4 separate regions of the Homo sapiens genome follow, and regions 1, 2 and 3 are each reported to be linked to region 4. Evidence: microRNA targets listed by miRTarBase, many of them from high-throughput screens and not tested one by one. Region 4 holds a microRNA gene; each other region holds the end of a gene's coding sequence.
The links. Region 4 holds the annotated microRNA hsa-miR-548ay-5p (AAAAGUAAUUGUGGUUUUUGC, at 1,687-1,707, shown strand). A microRNA usually pairs through its seed, bases 2 to 8, with sites in the 3' UTR of a target mRNA and lowers its output. Matches are read on the target gene's strand: a 7mer-m8 pairs with bases 2 to 8, a 7mer-A1 pairs with bases 2 to 7 and ends in A, and an 8mer does both.

Region 1 (3,185 bases), not on the chromosome of region 4:
TTTATTATTATTGCTTTATGAATTTGGGTTACCACTTTGAATCATCATCCTACTCCTAGCATATCTTGGTATAGAGAATTACTTCTGGGGCAAGAGGAAGACTTTTATGCTTTTTAATGAATACCATGAAATTATTCTACTTTACTAAGTTAGGAATATTCATTTATTGGGTCCTTTCCATAAGCACATTTAAAAACCATCCCTCTGCTCCACAAAATATTAAAACTTATAGCCACATTGTGCAAGTAATCTCAAGAGCTGGCACAACGGATAATATACCAAAAAGGAAGATCAGCTTAAATTTCAGTTACAACTTCACTGCCATCACTACTTTAACAAATCAGAAGACGCCAGATTGCTCCATGCCTCACTCCACCAAACCAAATAATTTAATGATTTAGAAAAATTGCAATCATTTGTATCACTAAACTAGGATACAGCTTTGAAAGCAGTAAAAAACGCAAAACTTCTGCTTTTATACTCATCAGTCTTTAAAGCATGCTATTAAAATCTAATACTCACATAGGACATTCAGTTTTCAGATCACGTTACTAGCTAAATGTTTCTCTTCATTCTATTGCAATTCTAACATACAATGAATTTATTAGTACATGATTTTAAACATTTTTATTGTACTCTTTTAATGTGTTTATATTGGAGGTGAGGGTAGAATGTTTTATAAAAGGAAAATGGGGATTTGCTTTTGATTGTAGGTCTTTGCAGATCCGCTGGTTCCTGAGTGATAATACACAGTGCTGGCTGTCAGGAGACAGTCTCCTTGTTTATTAGCAATGACCAGCTTGGATGACAGATGGCATCTGCTGGATGGCAAGTGGGAGATGGGGAAATCGGATCTTGGAAGACAAGAAAAAATTAAAAAAAAAAAATTTTTGCTTTAACAGCCTTCTCTTCATGATTATTTTTAAAAGCAAATGTTGCCTGAGAAGAATTTTACTTTGCACAGCCTGGTAAAGCTCTTCTGGACAGAAAAATAAAAACAAGAAATAACCCAAACCCACACACTTTGTGATTAAACCCCTCCCCAACAAAATAACAAAAAACACCCTCAAAGGCAGGTCCCGTTAAAAACTAGTCTGGATAAACTGGAATTTACCCTAGAATTTATACCCAAGATTTAAAAACACCCCTGCAATAATCACATTACCTTTCATACCATTCTAATTACCTTATTTACAAAGATAACTAAAGCCAACATCACTTCCAATTCATAAATGGTTTACATTGAAATGTATCCCTATTTGTCTTCATCCTTTGTAACAGAGAATACATACATATACATATATATAAGGAATAATACAGATTCTAACTAATCACTGCAGTATTTGCTGATGGTTACTTTTCTATCGGTTTACACAGTGACCTCTATACTTTGCTAATATGCATTTAACTACACAACAATATTGCACAAAGTAATATTTATATAAGATTTAACCTATTTCAGAATATTTTAGAGAAAATTCATATTTGATATTTCAAAAGATGCAGCTAAGTTTTCATGGTGACAGACATAATAAAGCAGCATCTTGTATTTTTTTTTTTTTTTGCCTATGTTAATGTAAATATTTCAAATCTTACCATCCAGGAAAAAAAAAAAATCTCCAAATTGCACTGTAACCAGGGAGATATAAGAATCTGGTCTTAGGTGTGGGGAGTACTCTTCCATTAATAAACAAAAGGCCTACTGTATTATTAACTAAGAGAAAGTATAATGTGAATCATGTTAACATTCTAAAATAACAGAAAGTTAGGACCATACTAGCAATGTGAACTGTGCCTGTTTGAAAAGAAAATTTAAATACTCAGGCACTAAGCATTAGCCTACCTGAAACTCTAGGATGAAGTCTAGTGCTGTATTCTTTCTTAGAAAATAGCAACACAGAGTAATAGTAAATAAACCCAGGTATTCACCAGTTAAAACTGTGAATTGAAGTGTCTCAGTAGTAGATATTTATCATGAAGAGGTTGATGCCAAGTGACAAGAATAGTTTATCATAAGATTGATGCTCAAAATATGGCAGCCTCATCAGAAAGACTATTATTATTCTCTAAGTTTAATAGTTGTGATCAGTTTAGGAAGCAAAATTATCCCCACAAAATGTGAGGATGCCAGGAAGCAGAACAATAGAGTATCATGTCAACATTATCTCTTTTACCCAAAATATCTTCAACAGTTAGCATATATTCTAGAAGAGATTAATGAGCCATGGATAATGAATGACCAAGGACTATTCATCTTTAGATTTTTTTTTTAATTGAAATATCCACTGGGCTTTAAATAACAGATACAAAAAAAAGACAGTTTGGATCAGAAAGTGCTGTGCTTTCTCTTTTGTTAAGAAACCAGAGAGCCACTGAAATTTCCTTGGAAACTACTTGTTATTTGTGGTTAGAACTAAATAACTTACTTGCCCATGTACCAGATGCAGAAATTCTTTCCTGCAACCTATGCCATTTTCACTGTAGAAATTGAACCTGTGCCATAAAGACACAAGTACTAAACCATAAATCTTATTTATCCATAAAAACAGCAAATATGGCAAGAGACAAGGCAAGATAAAATTAAGGGAAGTGAATAATTTACCAAACAAGAATCTGTTATTCCAGAGAATTCTCATTTTGATTTGAAGAAGAGATTGAATTGTTACCTCACACCTTAAAACAGAAAGTAGCAGCAGACCCACTATTACATACTGTACTAACGGGATAAGATACAACTCTTAACTTTGCATAATCTGTGTAAAAAAGATATGCTTGACATTTGTGGAATGTCATTTCTCTTTATAGAATTATAGGCAAGATTTCTCCAATAAAACTTAACTTAAGCCAGTTATAAAACTATAACTTCACATCAAAATTTAAAAAAGTTAAAAAATGTGTTTGAATATGTACATATCACACAGAAGTGGTTGAATGTTCTTGCAGATTGTGTTGCTGGTCAGAGTCCAGTCTACTTTCCACTTTTAAAACTGGAATAGGCTGAGTCTTCTGATCTTGCTGTAGATTAAGTTCTGATGCAGGTGGGAAAGATGATGAAGCAGTTGTTAACAGCTGAATCTCTGTGCATGCTTCTTCAGATTCAGTTTTTATCCTCACACATTGGGAGTCAACTTCTAATTCTCGCTTTCCAGTTAAACCACAGTCCATGTTAGAATTGCTTTCTGTGT
Region 2 (3,185 bases), not on the chromosome of region 4:
CTACAGGACTTGGCTCGTATTTACATTCGACGCACACTTAGAAATTTCATAAATGATGAGATGCAGGCCAAGGGGATTCCTCAAAGGGCTCCACCCAAAAGGAAAAGAAAGAGAGTTAAACAGAGAATTAACACTTACGTATTTGTGGGTAATCAGCTTATTCCTCAGCCTCTAGACAGTGAAGAGGATGAAAAAATGGAAGAGGATAACAAAGAAGAGGAGGAAAAAGATCACAATGAAGCAATGAAGCCAGAGGAGCCACCTCAAAATTTACTGAGAGAAAAAATCATGAAGCTGCCCCTCCCTGAATCTTTAAAAGCTTACTTGACATATTTTAGAGACAAATAACTTAGATCAAGAAGAAAAATGCCTACTGATAATTCCTTTAGTCTTGAAAATGTAGCATTTGTTAGGAGTTAAAAGAGAGAATTATTTCTTTCATCAGAGCAAATTATAGTGGAAAAAAAATCACTTGTTTCTGTCAGTAACACAAATGATGTATTCAGTGAATAAAAGAATCCCTTTTATAAAATCTATTTTTCTTTAAATCTTGGAAAAATGTTGTTTTAGCTCAGAGTGATTTCAAAGTGGAATGCAACAGTAGTCAAGACTTGTGTACTATAAATCCTTTTCTGATTCCTTACAGATTTGTAGTGATGAGGTTTAGATTTAATTTTATATATGGTTTAAATAATTGTTAAGCTTATATAACCTGATCTGAATTGCAGTTGTTTGCATTTCCTCTATGAAAACTTCATTTATCTAATAAGGAAGTCAAATGCTTTGTAGACTATTTACCTTACTTTTGTTGCAATCACTGTTGTTGGGTTGCTGTATATATATTCCGGGCAATATATGAGTGCAATAACAATACAAGATATTGAATAATTTAGCTTTAAAAAATCCCACAAATTTTATGAAATTTTACAGCCCTGCTACTTTTGCTTTTGAATCTCTTGCCAAAAGACATGGGTAAAATATCTGCCTCTCTCATAGAGATTTTAAGAGCACAGCAAGTGAATTATTAAAACAAAGTCTATACTTAATACAACTCTTTATATGGACCCTTTACATTTTCAGTATTTAAAAAAATGAGGTTATCTTAACTCTATAGAATTTTAAAAGTATATTTAGAATTGTTTTTTCTGTAGTTCACTGTATAAAGTATTTGGTTTTTTAAAAAAAGCAAAACCATTGTTATGTGTGACTCTTGATAGGACACAGAACGAGTGAATGAGCATGAGTGAGGCCACTTTCTTGGATGGCTGTAAGTAGCAGGGCCAGGGTAGACCTGGTCAGCGGATGCACTTTAGCAGATGGAACTTCTAGTTTATCTGAATATTTATCTTTGACAAGGTAGGGCTGAGCCTACATTTGCTTTTGATCTATCTAGTATAAGAAATATTCACAGAAATTGTATGTAGATACCCTTTGTTTTGAAAATGCTGTTCAGAATCATAGTGTAATCTTTGGGACCTATGCCATGTTCATTTCACTCCTTCCCATATTTTTTGTGTTTCTTTTGGTAAAACTATAATGGTTTTCATTTTTTACTTAATATCACACAGTTAAACTGTCCATATTTGAGCTTTATTTTAGCTTATCAGTGATAAAAAACAGGTAGTAACTGCCATTGTTTGTTTGTTTTCCTAATAAGGCCTGAAAACAGCCATTCCTTGTTAAGAAAGTGTACAATGTAACATATTTGCTAGAGTTACATGGATTATATATTTCTTAAAGGGAAAAATTTGAGAGTATCATGGACTACCACCAGCATTATTATTACAGTAGTTACTCAGATTTGGTTAAGGAAGCCCAAGCAATGTATAGTGAAAGGATTATTATCTCTCTGCTAAGATTCAGATATTGTTTCAGAAATCTCAGCTCCAGTAATTCCACAACATCTAAAAACAAATGTTTGTGATCATGTGTAAGCATGAAATTGTTCCAAGTAAGTGAGGATATTTTAGTTATGTGAAAGACAGTTTCATGGAAGGTATTTGTTTTATACCAGTGGCTGGGATGGTGGAATTGGGGTTATTTCTACAATTATTCTTAGACGATTACTAAACTGTTAAGAAATGCCCCATATCATTTTTGTATCTAGGAAAGAAAAAAATCAGTTTCATACTGTTGTCATCTGTCAGAAATGCTCATTTTATTTTGAATTAAATGTGGCTTTTGAAGTACCTAGTTACCTTGAATTCCTGGTGACCACATGTTTTTATCTGGAAAACCTGGAGAAAGTTATCTGTCCCATCTCCCCTGCTTGTTTTTTTTTTTTTTTTTGGTTGGAGCTGCTGTTTAGATGATGCTTTTACTATGCAGGAGAGAGTTTTTGTTAAGGATATATTTGAAGATTGGCTTTTCCATATTGTCCTTCATTCTTTGACCATGGCAAAGTGTACAGTAGATTTTCATGATCATTGCATATTTCTTGTCATTGAAATGTATCTTTTATGTTTTTAAATGCATTCATTTTACACTTGTGAGTTTATCATTGACTTTAAGAGGTAGAAATGAAAAATGAAAATTAAAGCTAAAGCCTTTTTATCTATTAATGCAGATATATTAGAATAAGAATATTTTGGGTTTGTGTTTATTTTTTAATGAATTTATGTTTACTTGATATGGAAAATTACGCTTTATAGGTGGAAAAGTAGCAAATAAAGATTAAGTAAAAGTAAGTGAAAATGATGGGGAATATAGTATTGGAATTTTATAGCTAGTTAAAACAGTAAGTATCATCTAATTTGGGTGTTTATTTTGCAGATGAGAAAACAGACCTAGAACCGTGGCATGTTTTGCCTGAAACATACAGTGAGTTAGAGACAGGGCCTAAGATAGCTTCTAGCATCAGATCAATCCCAAGAATCCATCAGCAACCTCAGACCAACCCAAGAAGATAATTTAAATCTATACTGCTTATTGGTCAATATATTTGGTTCTAGTATTAATAAAGAAAAATGTTATTAAAATAGCATACATAGTAGTAAAATAAAATACAAAAAGTGTGTTGATTTATAGCTGTTTGAGATGATAAAAGTGAAGCAAAGCCTGTTAAATCATTGGAAGACTTGGAAAATTATTTTAAATAAACAATTACATGTAATTAAGCATTTTTCTCCCATGGCCTGACTTTTATGTTTGTCTTCTTCTTTTTAAATTTAGGCAATCTCAGTACA
Region 3 (3,171 bases), not on the chromosome of region 4:
AGAATAGCTGAGTGCAGCCTCATGACAGGGAAACAGCACAGTGTTGCAGTTTTAAGAGGAAGGGCACTTGCCTGGCTGCTCATCAGTGTCTGCAAATTGGCCAGTCATCTCTGACCATATGATAGTAACCTGATTTCCTTTCTTGCCTTTCTAGGTGATTGACATCTCTATGATCCTTGCAGAAGCCATCAGGAGAACTCACAATGGAGAATCCGTTTCTTACCTATTCAGCCATGTCCCTTTATAATAGAGTAACTTCTGAGGCTTTTTGAGAATAAAATCCACCCCACCCTTGTTTCCCCTTGGTATTTGATGACAAATTCAGCAGAAGACCCGGCTTGCTCCAGTGTAGCTTTCTACATCCCACATCAGGTATATTAGAGCTTATCCGAACTGGGGAAAGACGGATTGAGATTAACTGCTGGGACCTCCTACCTGCATTATCTCATTCTGGCTTCCTTGATAATTCTGTGGGCCTTGCAGCTTTAACTATAGCTCAGCTGCTGCAAGATTTCAGACTTTTGAGGATGTTGTGTGAGGGTGTTTGACTGTGACTGGGGAAGCTCAGACTACTTTGTATGTGAATGCTTCAGGGTTTTCTTTGTTGAGAACAACTAGCAACAAAGGCAACCCATGTGTGACCAGTTCTCCCCAAGGTCTATGCTAAATTATAGCAAGAGCCCTGGGCAACCCCAAACCTAGTCCTGGTAGCTGAGCACCCTGTAAGGCAGGAGCAGGCAGCTCAGCTTGAGCAGACATTGGGTGGGGGGTGGGGGGTGGTTGAGGGGGGAGGCAGCACAGTGCAGCAAATGTTTCTTGGGAGGAAGAAGCCTGATCCATCACCATCTGCTTGACTATGTAGCTTGGATTCTCCTTTGTACCTATCCCTTTCGATTTGGCTTTACCTTCATCTATCTTGATCCTTTCCTGGCCAAATATCCTCTTGGGCCCAAATGAACATTGTACCATAGTCTTCTGGAAAGCAAACATGCTTCCTGCTATGTAATTGCTAACATTCATATTAGATGATGTGCTGTAGCTTGATCTTCCTTAGCCTACTGCCACTGAGGCAGTAGGTTTTAGGTGGTATCGTAGTGCCTTTTGATTAATTTAAGTATTTAATTTTCATCTTCCTTCTTTGGATCTATTTGGCCTCTCAAATGAACTGAGATTCCTGTTAAAAAAGATTGATGTTATTGTCTCTTGTAGAGGAAACTAATAAAGTGTGTGTACCTGTGTGATTTGGGGTCTGTATCATACATAATCTGTACTGATCTCTCTGCTAAAGGTTTGGTTTAGATAGATGTCTTGCTGTCCATTGATAGCTCTTATTTGTTTCCAAACTACGTTAGCTTCATTGTTAAACCAAGAGAAGACATTGGCAGCAGTTTTATTCAACTGTAAGACTAAGATGTCTGGAGTTTACTGAGAATGTGATAAGAGTGTAATTCTGTGCAGTATACCTAAATTATAGCATGTATAATGTCTGGTGGATCTCTGGTTCTTACTCCTGAAGATCCAAATTAGGTATTTTCTTATGGGAGGAGAATTTCTGTGATTTATTCATTTTGAACTAATTTTGCCAAATGTGATAATTTCCTTCCATTCATCAGTAATTGACATACGTTTGGCATTTACTTTCTTTGTTTTTTTTGATTTTTTGGTTTTTTTTTGAGATGGAGTTTCGCTCTTGTTGCCCAGGCTGGAGTGCAATGGTGCAATCTTGGCTCACTGCAACCTCCGCCTCCCGGGTTCAAGCAATTCTCCTGCTCAGCCTCCTGAGTAGCTAGAATTTATAGGCATGTGCCACCATGCCCAGCTAATTTTATATTTTTAGTAGAGACAGGGTTTCACCATGTTGGTCAGGCTGGTCTTGAACTCCTGACCTCAGGTGATCTGCCCGCCTCAGCCTCCCAAAGTGCTGGGATTACAGGTGTGAGCCACTGGTGCCCGGCTGGGCATTTACTTTCATCCCTGCTAAATAAGAACTATTTTGAGAAGGTAAATGTGCAAAATTTAAGGATGAATTATTATGCATTCCAAAATTTTAAGTTTCCTTCTTTCTTTCCTTTTTTTTCTCTTTCTTTCTTTCCCTTTAGCTCTCTCTTTCTTCATTTCTTTCTTTTCTTTCCTTCCTTCTCTTTCTCTCTCTGTCTGTCTGTCTGTCTTTCTTTCTGTCTTTCATCTTTCTCTTGCTCTGTCACCCAGGCTGGAGTGCAGTGGCTCGATCTTGGCTCACTGCAACCTCCACCTCCTGGATTCAAGTGATTCTCCTGCCTCAGCCTCGAGAGGGATTACAGGTTATCTGGGATTACAGGTGTGCACCATCACACCTAGCTAATTTTTGTATTTTTAGTAGAGACAGGGTTTTGCCATGTTGCTCAGTCTGGTCTCAAACTCCTGGCCTCAAGTGATCCGCCCACCTTGGCCTCACAGAGTGCTCGGATTACAGGCATGAGCCACCATGGCGGCCTTAAGTGAGTGAGTTTCTTGGCCCATCATCAAATAAGGGTGCTCTTTTACTTTGGGAAGCTACATGGCTACAGAGCTTCATGAAGAGTGCTTCCTTATTTGTGAAGCCCAGGTCTACTTTTGTTTATTTTGTTTTTGCTTTTGTTGGATATCGGGATATCTATTTTACAGCTAGCTCTTTGATAAAAGTGATTCAGGAGGGACTAAAGTATACTATGAAATGTGCGCCTCTAACCCTCTAGACCTCTTTAATCTCAGATTTTTGCTCTGGGAGAAGCTGATGTGAAGCACCAATGCCTTCACTTGCTCATCATGCTATTTCCTAAAGTATTGGATCAGTGGGTCAGGTCTCATTGTTACAGAATATTTTGACATTAAGATCTCTCTTGTGGGCCCCTTTGGGTAATTCATTTCCTAGGATGAGGTTTTGAGATTATTCAAAAAAGGCCCAGTCCCCAACTTTGATCCCTTTCAAAGCAGTTGTTTTTTGTTTTTGTTGTTTTTGTTTTTTGAGACAGAGCATCGCTCTGTTGCTCAGGCTGGAGTGCAGTGGCACGATCTCGGCTTACTGCAACCTCCGCCTCCCGGATTCATGTGATTTTCCTGCCTCAGCCTCCCAAGTAGCTGGCTAATTTTTGTATTTTTAGTAGAGATGGTGTTTTACCATGTTGTCCAGGCTGGTCTCGGACTCTCGACCTC
Region 4 (3,185 bases):
GCTTGTGAATGTTGATGGTGTATTCTTGGGTCACCACCTCGTTGATAGCAGAACGGCCCTTTTTCTTTTGGCCACCCTTCTTTGCGGAAGCCATTCTGTTGGGTCCAAGTTGGAAAGGCAATATTTTATTTTATTTTATTTTTTTAAGACAAGGTCTCACTCTGTCACCTGGGCTGAAGTGCAGTGGCACAATGGCACAATCAAGGCTCACTGTAGCCTCAACTTCCCGGGCTCAAGCGATCCTTCTACCTCAACCTCCCAAGTAGCTGGGACTACAGGCATATGCCTCCACACTCAGCTAATTTTTTTTTCTTTCTTTCTTTTTTTTTTTTTAGAGATGGGGTCTAGTCTGGTCTCGAACTCCTGGACACAAGGAATCCTCCTGCCTGGATTACAGGCATGAGCCCAGCCTATTAATAAATTAGATAAATCTTTGAAGCAGGCTTACTATATGCTTGTATGAAAGTTATCTTTTTAATTTTTTGAAATTTGTACTTTGACATCAATAAGAGTTACTGCCTCCTATATTACCTCTCTGTTATTATTCTCCCTCAATCTCCTTGTTACCCAGACTTGAAATATTGGCACCTGCTCCAGTTCCTTTCTTACTCTCTAAACAAATCAGTCCTCAAATCTCACTGGTTTTACCTCCAAGGTTCTCTTGGTGCCATCCCCATGATTAACGTCAGAGTTTAAGCTTCTATTCCCTCTCTCCTGAACTTTTACAATAGCCCTTACTTGGATCTCTGTAACCACTGCGCTCAAGGCTACTAGAAAAATATCCCCAAGGAAAAGCTCCGATCATTTCACTCCCCTTCCTAAAACTCGTTGGGGGTTCTTCATTACCCAACAATAATGGAAAGGCCCAGTTCCTTAGCTTGATTTTCAAAGCCTTCCAAAATTTGATCTCGAGCTTATATTCCTTAACTACTCTGTCCTTTCCTGCTCCCTTCATTCACTGTGCCTATGCACACTTTCTTTGCCTTCCTTCATACCACCCTACTGCCTGAATACTTTCTGCCCTGTATCTGCATGTCCAAACCGAAGTATAGTTTAACCCCATCTTGAAGCTCCACTGTAGTGATCCTTTAAACTGAAAGTTATTTCTCTCTGCTCCGAATTAGCAACATATTTAATTTGTATCTCTTCTATAACACATATCTCTTTCTATTTTGTAACATAGTTCTTTGTGGACATTACTGTGGTATCATTGTAGGATAGCGTCTATAATCTAACTTTGTATCCACAGTATTGCCTAACTGTGCTAATACCGATAAGAGGGCCAGTGAAAAATTGTTTAGCAGGAACTGCTGAAAAAAATTAAACTCTGAACTGAAAAAGTAGTACTGAGGCAGGATAGGCAGTCAAGGAAGTGCCCATATCCTCAGGACGCAGCAACCATGGTGACCCCAACAGTCAACACAATAAGCCTCAGCATTTGAATTGTGATTGAACTCAGTCGAGCAAAGCTATCTTCAGTAGGAAATTTCTTCTATAGAGAGCATGAGCACTTTGATTTTACCTGTCCTCAAACTGACCTTTTGCTCATTATAATAGCAAAAAACATGCCCTTGGGTGGAGATTTACAATGCTAATGGGACACCTGAGGGAGGAACATGGGTGCACAGCTACTGCACATGTGCAGCCAGAGGACCAACCAGAAGATGCTTACTACTAGGTTGGTGCAAAAGTAATTGTGGTTTTTGCATTTAAAGTAATGGCCAAAACCGCGATTACTCTTGCACGAACCTAACGGTAACACTTCTTCCCACCTCCTTATGAATAATCATGCAAATAATACATGATTAGCAATAACCTCCAGCAATAATCAATGTTGTCTCATCCTTACGAGCAGCCTGCCCTGAATTCTCTCTCTCTCTCAGGGTGTGATGTCTATTTTGTACTTAGCTTTCAAAATTTTTTTTTCTTTTGCAATAAATTATGCTGCATCTCTTTTGCTGTATGTCTCTTGTTTAAATTCTTTTAAACTAAGAAGACAAGAACCAAGGTCTTGCAACAGCCTCCAACACTACCACATTATTTTTTGAATGGCTGAAGTCCCATCAAATTATGTTCCCCAATCGCTCTCTCTTCTTGTGAATGTTTTTCTTTCTTTTTTTAAAAAATTAAATATCTAATTTTAAAGGAGAACAGTGAATATTCTTTAAAACCTAAATTTAGTGTATCTTCCTTTCTTCTTTTTGTCGTATTTTTTTCACCATACGTAAGATTTCTCATTTCAACATAGTGAGTCCCACCATTTGACTATTGCAAGTTGTTTTATTCATTAATGAGGGTGACAGTTTTCTGTGTGAATATGCCCATCAAAAGAGTTTCCTATACAAGTATTTGCTCATGAAGCACTAACATTTTTATTTGGTCTTTCAATTTATGAAGAAAATGTAAGGGATGCCCATTTCTTTACCTGGGTGAAATATTAGTCTCTAAATCCCAGGCACCCCCAAATCAATCAGAGCAAAGAAAATATGGCACGTCTACTGTCTACTACACAATGGCTTTCACTTTTATCACATTATAAAACAGTGTTTCTCTATGTGGATGGATTTCTTCCCAGATTCACATGAAGAGCTTGTTACGAAAGTATATTCCCAAGCCCCATCTACATTCAGAATCTTTGGGGCTAGATCTCCAAGAATCTTCCTTTTTAATTAATCTCACAGATGATTCTTCGCCATGTTGGAGTTTATGAATCACAGGCTAAATTTGTGTCTTCTTCTAAAAATGCAAAGAGAAGCAGAGACCCCTAGAGAATTGCATAAGTGTGCCCTAAACAAACCAAGAGGGTTGACGAAGTCTGTTCATCTTCTCTCTTGTCTCAAAGTATCCTTGTTTCTTTGTAACTTCCTCCCAATACTTTATTTTGAAAATGTTCAAACATACAGAAATGCTGAAATAATTGTACAGTGGACACCCGTATACTTCACCTAAATATTACCATTAATATGTTACTGCAGTTGCTTTATTAGAGATCCTTGTTGTTGTTGTTTTTTTAACAATGATTTTTTTTTTTGAGACGGAGTCTCGGTCTGTCGCCCAGGCTGGAGTGCAATGGTGTGATCTCGGCTCACTGCAAGCTCCGCCTCCCAGGTTCACGCCATTCTCCTGCCTCAGCCTCCCGAGTAGCTGGGACTACAGGCGCCCGCCACCACGCCCGGCTAATTTTT

Region 1: miRTarBase lists RSBN1 as a target of hsa-miR-548ay-5p. Seed matches in the 3' UTR shown: 7mer-m8 at 1,428-1,434.
Region 2: miRTarBase lists PCMTD1 as a target of hsa-miR-548ay-5p. Seed matches in the 3' UTR shown: 7mer-m8 at 800-806.
Region 3: the mRNA of PRPS1 is a reported target of hsa-miR-548ay-5p. The part of its 3' UTR that is shown has no 7-base or 8-base seed match.

What each region holds. Positions count from the first base shown.
Region 1 is chr1:113,763,067-113,766,251 of GRCh38, forward strand. It overlaps RSBN1 (round spermatid basic protein 1), which reads right to left. Exons shown (of 7, transcript NM_018364.5): 7 at 1-3,185. The coding sequence ends at 2,914. Among named protein-coding and RNA genes, the nearest start is that of PHTF1, 5.2 kb to the left of the region's middle.
Region 2 is chr8:51,817,514-51,820,698 of GRCh38, reverse strand. It overlaps PCMTD1 (protein-L-isoaspartate (D-aspartate) O-methyltransferase domain containing 1), which reads left to right. Exons shown (of 6, transcript NM_052937.4): 6 at 1-3,116. The coding sequence ends at 348. Among named protein-coding and RNA genes, the nearest start is that of PXDNL, 9.7 kb to the right of the region's middle.
Region 3 is chrX:107,649,786-107,652,956 of GRCh38, forward strand. PRPS1 (phosphoribosyl pyrophosphate synthetase 1) reads left to right here. Exons shown (of 7, transcript NM_002764.4): 7 at 155-1,241. The coding sequence ends at 247. Among named protein-coding and RNA genes, the nearest start is that of PRPS1, 23 kb to the left of the region's middle.
Region 4 is chr3:32,504,864-32,508,048 of GRCh38, reverse strand. It overlaps MIR548AY (microRNA 548ay), which reads left to right and starts at 1,660; the gene lies at 1,660-1,766. It also overlaps the pseudogene RPL31P18.